2 separate regions of the Homo sapiens genome follow, and region 1 is linked to region 2. The links come from fine-mapping of genetic effects on gene expression. A gene starts in region 2. The other region holds a variant in brackets. All regions are shown on one strand. Distances are between the middles of the regions.

Evidence for each region. PIP is the estimated chance that this variant, and not a neighbour inherited with it, causes the effect.
Region 1: its variant is the best candidate, but not a certain one, in a credible set for the expression of RASAL2-AS1 in thyroid (GTEx, PIP 0.69).

The regions. Positions count from the first base shown.
Region 1 is chr1:178,275,111-178,278,023 of GRCh38, forward strand. The region is part of intron 1 of RASAL2 (RAS protein activator like 2); the gene reads left to right. Among named protein-coding and RNA genes, the nearest start is that of RASAL2, 180 kb to the left of the region's middle. The variant G/A (reference allele first, on the strand shown) is at 1,378.
Region 2 is chr1:178,092,890-178,095,802 of GRCh38, forward strand. It overlaps RASAL2-AS1 (RASAL2 antisense RNA 1), which reads right to left and starts at 1,104. Exons shown (of 2, transcript NR_027982.1): 1 at 672-1,104; 2 at 1-523. RASAL2 (RAS protein activator like 2) reads left to right here and starts at 1,215. Exons shown (of 18, transcript NM_170692.4): 1 at 1,215-1,805. The coding sequence starts at 1,604. RefSeq lists an enhancer at 691-1,192 and silencers at 814-863, 914-1,213, 1,284-1,443, 1,594-1,653.

The sequences.
Region 1 (2,913 bases), 180 kb after region 2:
TCATAAGACTCCATTCAGTTAACTAGGCCACATAGTTGCTTAAGCAGACTTGGCTTAATGTGGAAATTAAGGGACTTACCTCTTTTAAGAGACTGGGTTGTGCTGTGTTGCCCCGGTTTGAATGCAGTGGCTATTGAGAGCACAGTCATGCACCCTACAGCTTTGATCTTCTGAGCTCAAGTGATCTCAGCTCCCAAGTAGCTGGGACTATAGAGGCATGCCCTGATATCCCAGCAGGACTTATTTCTTCAAGTGCATATTTAAGAAGTGGAAGAAAACTATATGATCTGCTTTGTTTGCATTTCACGGCACATGTGATCAGGACAGTGCAAACTGTTGTAGTGATGTGGAAGGGAGAAGCAAGGTAGAACTATCATAGGAATTGTTCCCCATCCTTACCATCTTCTTAAAATAAGTAATGGCACCAAACTAAAATGAGCTCTTCTATAGAGAAGTGTTACCTTTATCAAATATCAAGTTGTCTGCCATAAATAAGTCATGCCTTCAAGGAATTTATTACTTTTTTACCAGATAACTCACTCTGACCTGTGATAGAGCAGAGTTAGAACATTCATGCTGAACTGTGATGCAGCTGAGACTGAGAGGGAAGCAGCAGCAGAACTCTGCAAATGTTAGACTAAAGGAAATTACTCACCAGAGAGAAGTATCACATGTTATCTCTTTCCTGCTCTCTCCTTCTCTTAACAAGGGTGATAATGAGCATAGTGGATTTACTAACTAGACACCAGTGATCAAGTAGGTCGGAAATTAAGCCTTTGTAGTTGACAAGGAAACTAAAGTGGTTAGCTAAGGTTAAAAGACACAATATAAATTTATTTCGGCAAATAGTTGTGGTCTCATAGTAAATTTATGGTAATGTAAGGATTAAGACTTGTATTTCCATGAAGGCAACCATTTCTGACCTAATGACTATATCTTAAACATATTGAATGATTACTTAGTATCCATATTACTCATCAAGGTACGAGGGTGGCCATATTTAAATCCACTGAGGCCATTTATTTGTATGAACTATAATATAATTTGCCAGCCCAAATGTTCATTGTGTGTCAGGACAAAGCAAAGTTCACAGGTACTGTGTGTTGGGTGGTTATCAGTCTAAGAAAATTTTTGTTTGTTGTTCTGGAAATGTTATTTTCTGACATTTTGACAGAATATAGAGGGTGGGAAGGTAATGAAGGGATAAAATAAGTAAAATTAAACTTTACTTTAAGTGACCTGACTGGATTTTCCTTTCCTTTTGTACTTTAAGAATGAAAGAGAGTGACTTAGTTGATGGGAACTACACTAGGTCTTAAGCAGACAACATTAATACATTTATAAAATAATTTGAGCATAAATCTGCAGTATATTGTG[G/A]ACTACTCCTCAACCACATTACAATTTTTTTGTTTTTTTTTTTGAGACAAGGTGTTATTCTGTTGCCCAGGCAGAGTACAGTGGTGTGATCATGGCCCACTGCAGCCTTGACTTCCTGGGCTCAAGTGATCCTCCTGCCTTAGCCTCCCAAACTGCTGGGGTTACAGGCATGAGCCACTGTGCCCAGCCTGTTACAGTTATTGACATTGTTAAGAATCATCTCCACGTAACAACTCTAACATTATTTCTTCTATTATATCAGAAATTGTCTATAGAAGATAGCCATGTGTATGCCATATTTTTAAATCTGCATGTCAGGGGCAAGGATTTTATTGTTTATTAAAAAAATAAAGAACTGCCTTTTAAAAAATAGCTTGTTGGCCGGGCACAGTGGCTCATGCCTGTAATCCCAGCACTTTGGGAGGCCGAGGCTGGCGGATCACAAGGTCAGGAGATTTAGATCATCCTGGCTAACACGGTAAAACCCCATCTCTACTAAAAATAGAAAAAATTAGCCAGGTGTGGTGGCGGTCGCCTGTAGTCTCAGCTACTCGGGAGGCTGAGGCAGGAGAATGGCGTGAACCTGCGAGGCAGAGCTTGCCGTGAGCTGAGATCGCGCCACTGCACTCCAGCCTGGGCGACAGAGTGAGATTCCCTCTCAAAAAAAAAAAAAAAAAAAAAAACCAAAAACTTGTTAATTGGCCTATTAATATGATATTAAACATGAATGCCTGTTAAAACTGTTGTGAACATGTTGATGAAAAGAAAAAATGCAATCCTCCCACCTCAGCTTCCCAAGTAGCTGGGACTACAGGCACGCACCACCATGCCTGGCTGATTTTTGTATTTTTTGTAGAGATGAGGTCTCACTGTGTTGACCAGGCTAGCCTCAAACTTCTGAGTTCAAGTGATCCACCCACCTTGGCCTCCCAAAGTGCTGGGATTATAGGCGTGAGCCACCGTTCCTGGCCAGATGTTTTTGCTTCTGTAATAAAGTGATCACTTTAATTCTTAGCTTTTATGAAGTAATACTTTTTGACTTTGGGTTCAAAGCCAAAACAAATCTGGTCATTGAAATTTCAGAGTTGCGAAGAATTTGCCATTTCTAAGCCAGGTTAGCTGTGGTGTGGAAATGAAAATGTATGTATAGATACAGGAAAATACAGATCTATCCTTCCACAACAGTTCAGACTTCTGCAGTTTACACCAATTATCTGTTGGGAATATGTTTCTCTTTTAGTGTATTAAGACCTTCCCTATTCAGATAGATTTCCCAAAACTATGCTGTTGTTATTTCTTTTTTTAGGTTGGCACTAAGATAGATGAAAGGCCCCTGAGACTGAATGAAACATTAGAGTTTGTATTAACTGGGAAGATTCTCTCTGTAGAATCCCTTTATAAAGCTTTCTCTGGAAGGCAGTAAATATTAATAGTGTTACAGTCTCACCAATGCAACACAGTGTAGTGTCTGTTATTGTGAGACATCACCCAGAGTTGTTTGTCTCATGACCAAGAGAATTAAGGAGCATGGTCACA
Region 2 (2,913 bases):
GTTCCACATTAGGTAGCCACATTCAAGAAAAACTGTTGGAGATCTACTATGTCCAAGGCACGGTTTAAGTTATTACTGTTCAATTTTGAAATTATTATTGTTAACTTGTCAGTAATTTCTTAAACCTAAACTGGTGAAACTCTCCTTGGGTGGACATAAAAGTAAAGCCATGGCCAAGGAGGGAGACAGTCTACAAATAAACCAAAAATAAAATACAAGTGACATCATTAAAGGAAAAAAGCCAACACACTGCACAAAGATCAAAGACAAAACAGAGAAACATGTTTGGTTAATACTGGGCTTTGAGTATTTCATGTGCCTGAGAGGCCCGTCCGTCCATCCACACCACACTTCTTCACCATGCTGTTGCAAACCAATGACAAGTTCAGCTTCAGCGCGGACAGGGCGCAGGGCGCAGACCCTGTGCATATCCCAGAATCCCGGACCCACTGCCACTCCACTCTGGGAAGGAAGAAGGCGCTCCCCCTTGGGTGACTGTAAGATAAAGCAGCTTCTTCGATCTCTTTGTCCAATAAGAAAGAAACGTTGGCCCATAAAGAAAGAAAGAAACAAATAAATAGGAAAGGTGTGAGAAGGAAGGGAAGCTCCTTTCTTTTCTGTTTAAATTTCCCGCACCCTTTTACCTCCCCGCCTTCTCAAACGGTCTTTACTTTGAGCAGCAGAGACCCGGACCGCTCAATACCCGGCTATCCCTGGGAGGGTACTTGGAAAGTAGGCGGGACAGGCCGGATGAATAATTCGGTGTCCGACTTTTCCTGCCTGCGGCGCAGTCCCTCCCCGGCTTCGTTACTCGAGTGCACACGCGGCCGGGCTCTCGGCCCTCGATTGCTTCAGCCTATCACCCTGGGATGCCGCCTGCCGCTGCCGCCGCCGCCGCCGCCGCCACCGCCACCGCCACCGCCACCGCCACCGCCGTGGCTGCCGGGTTTGTGGGATCCGCCGCGGAGCAGGAGCCAGAGCTGTGGCCGGAGCTGTGGCCTGAGAGTCAGGGGGCGGGCAGGCTCATTCCAGAAGTGGGGGCCGAGGACAGGCGGGCTAGAACCCGGGGCCACCGCCCCCTACCCCTCCTCAGGCTGAGGGAACGGGCACTCGGAGCTTCTGAGGCGGCGGCGGCGGGAGCCGGTCAGAGGGGGCGGCCCCTGGCGGCGACGCCCCCAAGCCCAGCCCTGCCCGGCCCCGCTCCATCCCCAGCCAGAGCCTGGTCTGACCGCGAGAGACGCCGGCGGGGCTGAAGAAGGCGGCTCCGAGGAGGTGGGAGGGCGAGCCTCCCCTCCCGGGTTCTTCTGCGTCCTCTCCCGGGAGGGACCCACACACACCTGAGCCCGGACCCACCCTTGGTCGGGGCCACGCTGGATCCTCCTCCCGGCCTGGGTCCCGCCCGCCGACTGCAGGTGGGCTGCATCGCCCGAGCCTCGGGCAGTGGGCGACGGGGAAGGAGGTGAGAGGTGTCCGCGCCGGCTGCCGCTCGGGTCCCTGCCCTCGCTGCGCGCTCTCCTCCTCCCCTTACCGCAGGCAGGGCGCGGAGCCGCGCGCCAGCCCGCCCCGAAGCCGCCGCCTCGTCCCCCTCCCGCCTCGGGGCACCATGGAGCTCTCTCCGTCGTCCGGAGGAGCCGCGGAGGCGCTGTCCTGGCCGGAGATGTTCCCGGCGCTGGAGTCCGACTCGCCGCTGCCCCCGGAGGACCTGGACGCGGTTGTCCCAGTCAGTGGAGCCGTCGCCGGTGGCATGTTGGATCGGATCCTTCTGGAGTCCGTGTGCCAGCAACAGAGCTGGGTCCGGGTGTACGGTAAGGACCACAGGCCGTCTTAGAGGCTGGTGTTTCCTATTTTTGCTTGGGCTGAAATTCATTCCCTAAGTCACAGGCTCATTCCCAGTCCTCATCCGTGCTAGGTCAGTTTCCCACATCCCTTTTTGTTCTGGGGGTGCATTTCTGACAAGTTTCTTCAGACTATCACTTGGGCAGGGATGTCACTCAGTATGGTCTTTGGACCTCTTCAGACACCTGCAGTAAGTTTAATGCGGGAGTTGGGCTATCCAAGACGTAATTCTTAGGCGATTACTTCAAGGGAACAGCCAGGCAATCAATCTTCAAGAAGGTATGATGGAAAAACTCCATGAAACCAAGTGAATGGATTTTCGTCTCTTTTTATTGTTGAATGAGGCAAGACTGGAAACCAAGATATTATGAAAAAGCAGAGGATAAGCTAATGAATGAAAAAAATGCAAACTATGTATTTGGTGGGAGCAAGACTAATCTATAACCTCTGCCTGAACCTCACTCTCTCTAAAAGCAACCACTTATTCCAACGGGTGTGGATTGTTTCAGATTACACTATTGTTTCTGAATCTCGTTGTAAAGTGACTGGGTTGCCACTCAGCAGGTTAAAAGTGATGAACACACTAAAACTTTCCCTTTCTGCATTCCTGGTAACCACCTCTTTAATTAAAACTGAATGATGAGATTCTATTAGGGTGAGCCTTGTGGCAGCACTAAAACCATGCTGGTTTTGAAAACTCATAGCTTAAGGATTTATAGCCTGGCATTCAGGACTGAGCTGTGGCTTTCCAAAATATTGAAACGGCAAGATGTTTATCGCCTAGCTCACGTGACTGCAGAAGACATTAGTAACGTGGCTGAGTATAAGATGGCAAATTTGAAGCACCTGGGATCAAACACAATGTTAAGATGTTATCCTGCAGTCTTGTGCATCTAAGCCTGTAGTGATCAAGTACCTTATGTTTTTTTCTTTCATCTTTCTGAACAGGGTATATGCTTACTATTCAAGAGTGACCAAGACTTAGGTTTTTTTCTGTGTAGTTCAGTTGATTTGAAGACTTAATGTCCATCGCAAAGATCATAGAACTAGGAGTCCAGAGATCTCAGTTCTTGTCTC